Regions from separate parts of the Homo sapiens genome. Here all the other regions are reported to be linked to region 2. Evidence: microRNA targets listed by miRTarBase, many of them from high-throughput screens and not tested one by one. Region 2 holds a microRNA gene; each other region holds the end of a gene's coding sequence.

Region 1 (3,183 bases), not on the chromosome of region 2:
ATACGCTGATGTTGTATCTCAGGTGCAGATTCCAGGGAGGTGGTAAATTGTTCCATTCACTATCTCAGTGACATTGCTGCCACCTTGTAACAAATCCGTATTCATTAATCCTGTTTGCTTTAGTAACAGAATATACCAAGGCCCTCTGAGATTAGTAAGAAATCAAATTTCAAAATCAAAACCACATTCCAAATTTCTTAAAAGATACTTTTTTTGTTCAATTCCTTTGTAAAAACATTGGTCACCATTTAACATACATGGCAACAAAATGCACCCAATTTACATGCATCAACAAGTTAATAAATCATAATACATGGACAACACAAATTTAAACAAACAGGACTAAAGTAGCTCATGTTGCATTTAACTATGGTTCTTGTGCTCCTAATAGAGAAGTAGCTAATATGAGAAACAAACAGTTCCAGTTTCAACCTAAATTAAAGTTATTTGTGGCAAGTAACATGAAACAATGATCATATGAAGTCATTATCTTAAAAAGAACCATTCTTCAGAAATCACTTTGTGGCAAAGCACCATACTAGGGTAGACTATGATCTTAAACATATACCTTCAGTTAAAGACAAATGGTCTCCATTTTTTGAAAATTACCTGAATGATTCAAATTTTTATTATGCCCATAAATTAAAATTATCTTTCAATGTGAAGGTTATATATTTTGACACCTTAAATAATTCTGGAGATGTTCAGTTAAACCAGTAATTCCCTGGGACCAGATTACTTTCAAGAGCAAGAAGAAAAAACAATAATCAAAAGCCCTTTCTAAAGTCACAGGCAAGGTTTCTGATACGGGATTTAATTAATAAGAAGTTAAGCACCACAGTAAAATACATTTTTAGAAAACAGAGTGGACTGCCATCAATACACAAGTTAGGGACAAAAGAAAGCACTTACACTTTACCCCACCCTTCCCCCCCCAAAAATTTAAGCACTCTAATCCTATCAATCAGAAATTTTACAAAGGATTTTTTGTGTGGTTATCTGTGTGTGGTTATTATATGGAAGATACAAACCGAAATTCTATTTAAGATCTCAAGTTCTAGAATCATGATTTGATTCAGTAAGAATGTCACATTATTTGTGCATGTTATATATTTATTTTTAGATTATATGCTATATTTTTATGCTTTCTCTCCTCAAAGTCTATGATTAAAGGATGGCACTTATGCATTCTGAAGCGCATGAGAGAATTTATGACAAACTGCCTTGTGAAAAAATATCTACTCTGAAGAGTTCAAAGTAATTATGTATAAATAAAACCTTAAAATAAACTGCTGTAAAACCTCTGCATCTATTTAGCAACACAAATAACTTCAAAAGCCAAAATACTATTTTAATTTTAAGTTTCTCTCCTCCATGATGTGTTTAATTACGCTGTTACAAGTAAGACTAATTTTTTAGCATGTGTAACAGACCACATGCTAAAAAAGTTTAAGGGTTCAGAAAACTAAAATTTATAATTCTTACATGGTTATACTTAAGCCAGAAGTACAAGACTAGAAATAAGTAACTTCAACCTAAAATATGCTTTAAATACCACAAAAGAAGAAAAAAGAAAAACAAAGGGAAAAAGGATTTCTCCTCATGTAATTTTTGAGTAGACTATGTAGCAAAAAAGCAAAATATTAAATATCTAGTTTTCACTTCAACAGAAATTATTCATAAATAAAATTCACTAAATAAGATATAATGAGATTAGGAGTATGAATATGGGGTATTCAGACTTATTCCATTCAGATGAGAAGATGACATCTTTGGAGGGAAAAAAAAAAACCTTACCAAATAATATAAATTGTATCTCATTAATCTTTCAAACATCACTTCAACTTCATCATTTATACCATAAACCTTCTTGACAGTTCCTATTTTCCACCTTTTTTTAAAAAAAGCTTTAGTCTCTTAATTTCCAAGCATCATGTTAAATCCCTTAGTTCAATCTAATTCCACAATCCCCATTTCAAAGACTCTAAAATAATCATTTGCTTCCCCTCAAAAGTCAGAATCCACCATGTAATTATTCAAAACTGGGAAACTAAAAGGTTAAAAAAAATCAACTAAAAATTGTACGCTTGTTAGTATACACGGTTTCATGTAGCAGGGAGACCACATAATTGCTCTTTGTGATTAACCCTCTGGCCCTTAAAATAGTAAAGTCAGAAAATTAAAATAAGTAATATATACTTAAAATACTTAAAACCTGTATCTATATCCATTTTCAATAGATGTGACAGTTAAGAAATGACTGAAATTATATTATTATAAATGTTTACTGCATAACAGTACAAAATTGATGTTCCCAAAAAGAGGGTAAAAAAATCTTTAACTGACATTAAACATCTTAAGTAATTTGGAAAAATCCCAAGGTTGAAATGTAACTATCAGGGAACAACGAAAAATGCTTTCATGCATGTACACATGTTAAGTAACAAATAAGCAAACCCCAAGTCAATACAGTACATCAATGACACTTAAATAACATTATGAATATAAAAAGAAAGGATAAAATGTTGACTGCTATTGATGAAAAAGCATTTCAACAATATACACAAAATGATACTAAACAGCTTTTTAAAAAAGATGTCCTAAGAAGATCAAGCCACAATAAGTTAGTGTTTTCCATAATACATGCTAAATTATTTGATCCCATATCTATACTGTTACTGTCTTAATTCCTAAATGTTGTGACAGCATATTTAATTACTGAGGTACATTAGTTTACATCTTTTTATAGGTATTCTAAGAGGATTAACTTTTCGTTTCCAGTTTTTCATCTTCTTCACCTCCTCCAAAGAAAATTAAAGGAAACATTCCTAGAATGCAGCCAATAGTCACCCCAACAGCTTTGCCCTAAGGAAACAAAAGAGAACATTTTTAAAGTTACTTTATCTCTGATAACAAGAAGGCAGAGAAAAAATCTCACCAGCTCTTCTCAATATATTTGGATTTGCTACCCTTCATATATATTCCTCTTCAATATTTATCCCTGTGTATACCTAATTATATGTAGATATAATCATTATGTAAACATAGCTTTGTTTTCTTCCTCAATCCGTACCCCTGCATAGCCACACATTTTCTCACAAACTCTTTTCCAAACTGCTACACAAACTTAAAGACTTCTAAGTTCAACTGAATTGACGGGTCTATATTCTACTTAAATCTCTC
Region 2 (3,183 bases):
CACACACACACACACACACACACACACACACGTGTACACATTCTCTGGGTCCTGTAGCCCACCTTTTGAACAAAGTCCTCCTGGTGTGAAGATCACCAGGCACCTGTGTAGAGGAGGATTGGCAGGGATGGGGCCTGAGGCCATGGCTCTGGGAGCTTTCTTGCTTTCACACTGTACTATGTCCTTATATTTTGGTGAGCCGTGATGAGAAGGTTGTTAGGAAACTGACTTTCAAGTATCCTTAAAAATGGTCGTTGCTACTACTGTGATTTGTGATTGGCACACCAATGGACTTTTTTGCAATCGCACATCAGTTGTCAATATCTGGATGAATGCTTCTAAGAATTACTAAAATCGTTTGTTCCATGGGTTGGCTATCTCTCCTACAATCCTGCATTCCTGAAACCTCTGCCTTTCTCACCTCCCATAACCCACTGATCCACTCCTGCTCCCACCTCCTACCCACTCACCTCCAGCCCTGGGTCAGACCTCCCAGCCCAGCACTGCAGCCTTGTGCCCTGCCCCTCTGCCTCCCGCCCTATCCTCACCAACCCTCCTCTACGCAGGTACCTAGCGATCTTCACGCCAGCAGGGAAAAACACTCCATTGCCTGAGCTCTTTTCAGGAGGAACTGGGAGGCTCAGCACAAGCTAAGTGCCAGTAAAGGTTTGTTGAATTAAATGAGATTGAAATATGGAGAAGGGAACCAACATTATTGACTATCTTCTCTTTGCCGAACCCCTTATAGAAGTTAATTATCTCATTAACATTATTGTTTTGACCATTAAATTAGATAACGCTTGTAAAGTGTTTACCCAGTCCAGTTTCTGACCCTTAGTTGAATGCTATTATTATGATAATTGTGGTAACAATCACAAAGCCACTGCAAAATGGACATTGTCATCTTCTGGAATAGATGACAGTATCCGTCTTGCAGTGGCTTTGGACTGTTACCACAATTATGAGAAGGCTCACAGAGACTATGCCACTTGCCTAAAGTCCTCCGCTAGGATTTCAGCCCAGGACTCCCGCCTCCAAAGCAGAGCTCCTTTCTCTTCACCTCATCTCTCATCTCCTGTGGCTTTTTACACAATTCCAGGGCCTAAAGGCCTTCTTCTCTCTCTGCCCCACCAGCCACCATCCCCGACTCCCTAGCTTATTCTCTTAGTCCCCTGTTGGTCTAAAATGGAGAAGCTGCCTCTCATGCCTCCTTCTCATTTTCCAGAGTCAAGCGTCTTAGAAACATGGGTTCTTACACTTCCTAAATCACATTCTCTTAGACTTTGAAACAGAATCGCAGAGCATTGAAAGCAGTAATGAGTTGGGTGGGGTGAGCGGGGAGCTCACATTCAGTGCAGGAATTCCCTCTCAGCACTGGGGGCTGGGCTGGCGTGCAGCCCCTGCCTGACACACGCCTCCAGGAAACAGGAGCTCATGGGCCATTCCTAACCATCAGAAGGTTTTCTTTGTAAGGAGCTGGAGTTGGCCTCTCTCGGGTTCCTCATATTGCTCCTGCTCTGCCCTCTTGGGCCTCCTAGAACAAAGATTTGAGACTGCTGTCACGATGCCTTCAGTCTGTGCTTCGAGGGTCGCTGAGAGTAGGAACACATGGCTTAGTTCCCTCGCCATTCCCTTCCCAACTCCGCAAAGTGGAGGAGCGATTAAAGTTCGCCTCTCACATTCCCAGCAAGCCAGCAAGGCCCGGCTGGCCCGTATCAAATGAGCTGTGTTTATCTCTCAGCCTCTACTGGCAGAGAGGGTGGGACACGGGCCCAGCTGGGGTGCTGGTCAGAGCCAGCCCAACTCTCCAAGGAGTGAATAATGTCTTTCTTCCTCAGTCCCCTCCTCCCACCAGGGAGGGGGTGATTGCAACACTGCCACCACCTTAGGTCTCAGCCTGTTGCTGAAGAAGCCCTGTCCTCCCTTCCTTGGGGCAGCCCTGTAGCCCAGGTCTCTGTGCCAGTTGGCACCCCCTTCACCTCACCGCCTGCTCAGAGCATGAAGACAGAAAGAGTGTCTCAGCCAATGCCCAGGCAGGAGGCCCCTTCCCCCCACCAACAGACCTGGCAGAGGCTGAGAATGTGGGGGGCCTGGCAGGAGGCCTCCAGTGGCCACAATCCCCACCCCACCATACCCTAGAAGGTGACAGGCACAAGGAAGGGTGGCATGGCCTGGAGCTCTCTCTTCCTCAAGTGAGATGAGTGCCCAAGGCCATGCCAGAACCAAGCAGGAGGAAGAACTGCCAGACGGCGACAGGCCGCCTCAGTTCCTGCAGTGCTGGCACTAGCCCCAACCCTTGAACATGGCTGGTGAAAACAGTTTTAGTTCTTTAAGCCACAAGTTCACTGTGTGACATTCAGAGACTCATCCTCCTTTCTCTGAGCCTCAGTTTCCCATCTGCAAAATAAGGGGAGGGGGTAAGCTATGATCTTCAAAGATTTTCTGCATAGATACTTTATGAATCCATGATTTCAACATTTGAAGACTCCAAAATTCTAGGATTCTAAGGTTCAGGATTTTGAGAATTCCATGTTTCTAAGAACCTGTCTTTCCTTAGAACACAAAGCTTCTAGAATTGTCCAATGTTGTGGTTCTAAGATTCGATCATTCCAAGATTCTATGATTCTTGGATGTGTTGATGGTCTCATACATCTTAGGCTCTCAGAGGCTCCAAAGTGGGTTAGGATGAAGTTCAGGGAGCCAGTAGGACCAGTCCTGAGTGACACAGGTGTGTCACCTGAGTGTGAAGGAGGTAGAGTTTGTCTCATACCTCACTCCCTTCCCATACACTCCCTTTGGTCCTCTGTGGCGTTCCCACCTCTGCCCTGGCCTTGGACCTGCCCTGATTCCTCTCCCACCCCACCACCAAGTCTCATCCCACCTGTGCCCATGCATCCCTCCCCATCTCAGAGACCAAGCATGACTTTTCTCAGGGACCCTTTGGAGTCAGATCGGCTGGGGTTCAAATTGTGGATTTGGCTTTTATTTGCAGCCTGAATTTAGACAAGTTACCTAACCATTCTGGGCCTCTGTTTCCACATCTATTAAATGGAACTAATAACAATCTTTACCTCTCAGAGTTACTGTAGAATTAGGTCAGATAATATATGTAATATGCCTAGTGCCTGACATATATTATATGCTCAACTAAATAGGTTTAAAAAAAAACAGATCTGGGCACTG
Region 3 (3,183 bases), not on the chromosome of region 2:
ATATTAAGTCAAAATCACGTATTTTCTGCAGTGATACACCACTATAAACCTATTATTCTGTATTAGCATATTTTTAAGCTCATCTGCTTTCCCTGCATGGCCTTACTTTTTACTACTGTAACCTATTTTACCTGTTCTCTGGTTGAAACTGAGGGCAGCTCTGTAGTTACATTGACTGTTGACTTATGAAAAGCTTGTCAGCCAACCTGTGCATGGATGCCCTCCTCAGCACTTAGAATTGTTCATTCCCTTGTTTTTCCAAAGGGTCTGGTCTGATCTAATCAACTGGCTAACCTAGAACCCAGTATTAACAAGCAATGTTCCCACCCAGACAGTGGTCTACAAATACCATTATTTCTAAGGGAGCCAAGGTTCTTTGGGGGAAATGGCCCCTCCAGGTCTGAGGAAGAAAATGAGCAAGATGAAACACCCCGTCACACAAGAAATCGAAGAGTGATCAGATTATTGAGACCTGCTATGGTAGGAGCAAGCTTGAAGGGGATTCCCTTGGTCAAAAAGAAAATATCAGCACCAAAAAAACACAGTGGGTTGATATACATACAAATACATGAAAATCTGAATTAAGGATAAATTCACTGATTCCTTTTCACAGGCTGCTAGGTATCAATCCATCACTCTAAAAATTGGCCAAAAAAAAAATCACATTAATATCATTTCCAGCCAGATGTGATGGCTCACACCTGTAATCCTAGCACTTTAGGAAGCTGAGGTGGGAGATCACTTGAGCCCAAGAGTCCAAGACCAGTCTGGGCAACATGGCAAAACCACCGTCTTGACAAAAAAGTTAGTTGGGCATGGTGGCACCAAAAAAAAAAAAAAAAAAGTACTTTCCAGTGAGGCAATCAACATACCATCCTCTCTTGAGTCTTCATTAAAATAAAGGTATAGAAAAACATGGACAGATATGGATAGAGGATAGAGGATACTGAATTAATGAAGGAAACCACAACCCACAGTAAACAATTAGAACACATATATGACACCCAGAAACTGGTTATGAGACAAGATAGTACTGTACCCAAACTTTTCTCCACTCTCCAAAGTGGAGAACTATCCTAGAAGTGAGAAGGGTTAACATCTACAGATCCGATTCAAAATACAACTATCAGCCTAGTTAACAAATGCCAACCTGCTAAATGAAACAGGCTACTAGAAAGTTAAAGGCAAAAACACATAGGATGAAAACCTGTCTGGGCACACTGGCTCACGCCTAATGCCAGCACTTTGGGAGGCTGAGGCGGGCAGATCACTTGAGGTCAAGAGTTCGAGACTGGCCAACATGGCGAAACCATCTATACTAAAATATATGTATATTTTAGTATATCTATATACTATATATTTATATATTTATTTATTTTTATATGTATATACAAACTTAGCCAGGTGTGGTGGCACACACTTGTAATCCCAACTATTTTGGAGGCTGAGACAGGAGACTGCAGTGAGCTCAGATCGCACCACTGCACTCCAGCCTAGGTGACAGACGAGAATAGGTCTCAAAACAAGAAAGAAAAAAAATTCACGATCACTTCAAAATGTTGGAATAAATAAAATGTTGAGTAATGTTTTTTAGATTTCAGATACACGCCCAAAGCAGCAAGCAGTTGGTATATTAAAATCAACACAAAAATTTAAAGACAAAATCAAAGTCTCTTTCCCAAGTTTAAACAAAAAGGAATGAGAAAAACCATCCAAGACAATCAAACCAGACTAAGAATGGATAGAAGTGGGAGATGAAAATCTCCCAAGGAAAACGGCACAGAACTGGAGAACATTCCCTCACCTACTCAAACTACTGGAGTATAAAGCACAACAAAACAATAGAAATCAAATCAGTATATCTGACTCAGATCATGTAATCAGCTTAAGGCAGAACATATAAAGGTGCTAATTAGTCTCTGAATATCCTCATTATCTACGTGATAAATTTTCTCCTATACATCTGTAAGAAGTACTAGGCAACTTGAGCAAATAGTCACTGAAATAATTGCTTTGATTCAGATAAGGAATCCAGGTTGAGGTCAGGTGCAGTTGCTCACACCTATAATCCTAGCACTTTAGGAAGCCGAGGTGGGCAGATCACTTGAGCTCAGGAGTTCGAGACCAGCCTGGCCAACAAGGTGAAACCCCATCTCTACTAAAAATACAAAAATTAGCCGGGCTGGTGGCTCACACCTGTAATCCCAGCTACTTGGGAGGCTGAGGCAGGAGACCTGCTTGAACCCAAGAAGCAGAAGCTGCAATAAGCTGAGATTGTGCCACTGCACTCCAGCCTAGGGGAAAAAACCATACAGGTTGAAAGGCTGCTTTTAAGCTGTTTTAACATGCCACATTTTCTTTGCAAGTGAGGCTAGAATAGGCAGATAGGAGGTCTAATGGAACATTTGGAAACATGTTGCATAGTTATAATAATTGTTAACTATCATCAGGAGGTGGGAACACAGCACTAAATCCTTATGATGAAAAAGTGGTTAGCTCCAGAGAGAATATTGAAGGGGAGGGCAGGGACATTCTCATAGAATTTTACAAGACTATTTGCCATTCCTAACTACATTAATTATTTCTTTGACAAAGTATAAAGCAGTTAAATAAGTCAATAGAAACCGTGCTACTTTATTAAAATACTGAGTTTTATTTCACATGTATATTTTTGTCTCCCCACCATTTCCATGTCTGACCACCGCTACTACTATGTCCTATCATAACATTCCATACATACTTAAAACCAAGCAAAGGGTGGAGTTCCATCTTTAAAAACTAAACAGGCATTTTGGACAACACATTCTTGGCAATAGAACCTGGACAACATTTATCAAACACGGTAGGGAAAGTTCTCACTCTGCATTATAAAAAGGACAGCCAGATATCAACTGTTACAGAAATGAAATAAGACGGAAAATTTTTTAACAAATTGTTTAAACTATTTTCTTAAAGAGACTTCCTCCACTGCCAGAGATCTTGAATAGCCTGGAAAAAAAAAAAAAGAAATGTGGTTAAGGAACCACAACACTTCATAGACATCAATAAATTAAATGTCTCTTTGCATAGTTCAACATCTATTTTTCATTCTACCACCAGAGAGTTAACTCTAGATAAAGATATGACTCCAAGAAAATTTATACTCAGATGTAATTTAATTCCAAACACTTTAATCAGTCATAA
Region 4 (3,170 bases), not on the chromosome of region 2:
CATCTACCACTCAAGGGATTTGTTACTTAACCCCTGAACAAAACTTGACTCATCATTCCTTTGTTTTTCTCCACATTTGTATTATATAGATTATAAAGGGTTCTTAAATAAGGACATTAGCAGATAATGATTCTGTATTCTGTGAAGAACTTAGCAAAATTAGTGGTTTTTTATTACTGATTACACTAGTGTTATCTAGAGGTTTTTCTATTACTCAAACGTATTATTTGACAGAAATGACATAAGTTCTCAGAAGATGGAGCCGGAAAACCAGCCCTTGTCCATGGCCATGCAGTTACATCGGCCATGAAAGATAATTTTCACCTACTGCACTCACATATTCCTAGTAGAACTAGGTCCATATTTTAAAATACTTCTAAAATTATTTTTAAAATCAATGATGATTTAACAAGTGCAATTATTATTTTTTCGTCTTACAGAGTATTTCTGAAGAAATGTTTTATCAACTTAGTAACATGCTTCCCCAGATCTTCCGAGTATCATCAACACTCACTCTGACATCCAAGCACTAAACCCTTATAGATTGACATGCTGGCAGAAGATGATTGTTAAACTCTCCAGGAACTTGTGCTATGCTGGGAATCTGTCAAGCAAAAGATGCCCAGAAAGAGAACTTGCAGCTCAATCCACAAATCAAGATACATGTGTGTGAAACCATTCCAAAAATTTATATACTGCACAAACTGGTGATCAACCCCTAACTTAAACACTTAAAGTCTCTTTATGAATTTCTCTTTTTTTCTTCTCTGTGTTACCTGTGAATATTAGTAATCTAAAACTTTTTATTTATCACACATGGACACTTGGGAAAGGAAACTTGATTATATTTACATGGAGGCATTTGACTTTTTCAAGAGGCTTGACTCGTCTCAGGTGCAATCCTTAATTAAACATACAAACAAAATTTTCCTTTTACTTTCTTTGCCAAAACAAAATGTAAAAGCACTGAAATATACATTGCAAGTACAAATTTCCTGTGAAAATCTTTTTATAGAAACACAAATGTATAAGACAAATGTGCTTGTTCTTTTAAATTCTCCTGTTTCAGAATCTCTTTTTAATCTACTCCTAAGGATGTACAAGTTAGAGTCAGAAGACGTTTTGGATTTTTTCCCTCTCTCTCATCCTCCCGCTGTGCCCTTGCACTTGCATATTAATAACATTTCATGGACTGGGAAATAGTGTTCTTTTTTGCAAGCTTGATGTCAAGTTAGTCTAAACCAGCACCTGGCAGTATTTTAGTGCTCATCAACATTGTGACAATCACACAAGGAAGATCATTTCTACATTTCTGTCCTCCCTGCGTTCTCAGCTTGCTTAACCATTCCTCTACCTCTTGCATTTTTTTGCGGATAAATGTATCCCCATTTCTGCTTCTCTGTTTCCCCTCCTTTTCCATTGTTTTTCCTTATGGTACTACTTTCTCAGGTGCTACATATCATATATTTGTCCCATCTATAACATATTTAAATGCTATAAGTAGTAACTCCATTAAACAAAGGCATTTACAAAAGCACACAGGTGTTTAGAAAAGCAATAGTTTCATCAATTCCAAGTTATGTGGATATTGTAACTGGCCACAAGAATGAAATGGAGGGCATTTGGTGTCATAAGATGGCATGTCTTGATGACAAGAAACAAAACGCCCTTCATTAATATGCCTCAGTGTAATAACTATTATAGAAACTGTTGGCAAGCAGAGTGCTTTCCTATAACAGAATGTGTCTTAATTTTCTACTCGAGGGAAAGGTTTGTCCAGGTAACAACACTAAAGACAACCCTAAGAACACCCACTCCAGCAGTATGTCCATTAGACACTAAAACTCTCCAAATTATTTGTCAGGGAGCCTGGCGATTCTGCCAAGAAGGCAGGTGTTTTGCCCTTAGAGCCTATACAGTTCTCTTGGAGAAATTGTCTTTCAGGCACCACTGTTAATCACTGAGACTGATTCTAATGCAAAGCAGGGAAGACAGAGGCAGAAACCAGGAGAGTGGTAGATCAGTGCAGCCCAGATATCGGAATGGAGGAGCAAAGTTTCATTCACGGATGTTTGTTGAATGCTGCTGCCCAACTCTTCCTTTGTCACCTCTAGGCTATTCCACTAAGTTACTTATAAACTGGTGGCTTTAACTGAGGGCTGTGTAAAGGTACTATTTGGCATGTGAAGTCAGGATAAATTTATCGAATGTCCGTTTTCCACATGCAACTGTGTTACAGAAGTAGTAAAATTGGAAGAATCATGTTTATGGTGTTACCACTGATGGAAACACACAAACACCAAGCTAATAATAAATATATAACTTAAAAAGCTAATTATATGCACTGAAATGGTGGGAATTTTAGTGATGCAGTAATTGAGGAGTCTGGAGTTTTGTATTTGGACCAAGAATTATGAGATGAGGATCTTTTTCTGAGTGTTCTAAAGGGCTTCTTGAGGGGGAGTGGTTTAAAGCACTTCATGAATGATGTGAAGAAGGTACCTTGGGCTGAGACAGCATTCTAGGTACAGATGGCACTCTGTTCAACCAACTGTGGATGGAAAATATTCTGAAAAAAAATACAATAAAAATTTTAAAAATACAATATAACATCTGTTTACATGGCATTTACATTGTATTTGGTATAAGTAATGTATAGACGGATTAAGTATATGGGAGGCTGTGTGTAGGTTGTATGCAATTACTACACCACTTTATATGAGACTGGAGCATCCAGGGATATTGATATTGGCAGGGGGTCTGGAACCAGTCTCCTGCAGATACCAAGGGACAACTGAGTAAGGCGCAGATAGGAGCAGAAGCAGAATGGAGGCAGTGGTAAATGGCCAGTAAGTTGAGAGGAGCTGACCACGAGAGTCTTTGAGGATGGGGAGATTAGCACAAACATTGACATTGGTGAGGATTGTGAGTTAGAAGTTTTCTATTTGTATAAACAGTTACATATTCCTAAATGGCCCTCAAGGCCTTAAGAGTGTGCTTTGGAAATCAGGCAGAGGCACTGAACCTGAGGTCTCCATTCTGTGCTGCTCTTTCCCCCCCTTCCCCCATTTCTGCTCTCGAAGCACCACACAAGCAAAGCCATTGATCTAGAAGTGTGGCACCAGCTGTTTCTCAGCATGACAGTGTGACCAGAATGGAAGAAATGCATG

Evidence for each region. The annotated mature microRNA hsa-miR-4696 reads UGCAAGACGGAUACUGUCAUCU and lies in region 2 at 915-936, opposite strand. An mRNA with a match to its seed (bases 2 to 7 or 8) in the 3' UTR can be bound and repressed. Matches are read on the target gene's strand: a 7mer-m8 pairs with bases 2 to 8, a 7mer-A1 pairs with bases 2 to 7 and ends in A, and an 8mer does both.
Region 1: miRTarBase lists TMEM65 as a target of hsa-miR-4696. The part of its 3' UTR that is shown has no 7-base or 8-base seed match.
Region 3: the mRNA of NPM1 is a reported target of hsa-miR-4696. The part of its 3' UTR that is shown has no 7-base or 8-base seed match.
Region 4: miRTarBase lists FERRY3 as a target of hsa-miR-4696. Seed matches in the 3' UTR shown: 7mer-A1 at 1,356-1,362.

The regions. Positions count from the first base shown.
Region 1 is chr8:124,311,197-124,314,379 of GRCh38, forward strand. It overlaps TMEM65 (transmembrane protein 65), which reads right to left. Exons shown (of 7, transcript NM_194291.3): 7 at 1-2,865. The coding sequence ends at 2,764. Among named protein-coding and RNA genes, the nearest start is that of TMEM65, 60 kb to the right of the region's middle.
Region 2 is chr11:74,719,393-74,722,575 of GRCh38, forward strand. MIR4696 (microRNA 4696) reads right to left here and starts at 945; the gene lies at 876-945. All of the region lies in intron 1 of CHRDL2 (chordin like 2), which reads right to left.
Region 3 is chr5:171,410,332-171,413,514 of GRCh38, reverse strand. It overlaps NPM1 (nucleophosmin 1), which reads right to left. Exons shown (of 11, transcript NM_002520.7): 11 at 2,615-2,988. The coding sequence ends at 2,950. Among named protein-coding and RNA genes, the nearest start is that of FGF18, 7.7 kb to the left of the region's middle.
Region 4 is chr12:4,487,170-4,490,339 of GRCh38, reverse strand. It overlaps FERRY3 (FERRY endosomal RAB5 effector complex subunit 3), which reads left to right. Exons shown (of 14, transcript NM_020374.4): 14 at 441-2,605. The coding sequence ends at 533. Among named protein-coding and RNA genes, the nearest start is that of FGF6, 43 kb to the right of the region's middle.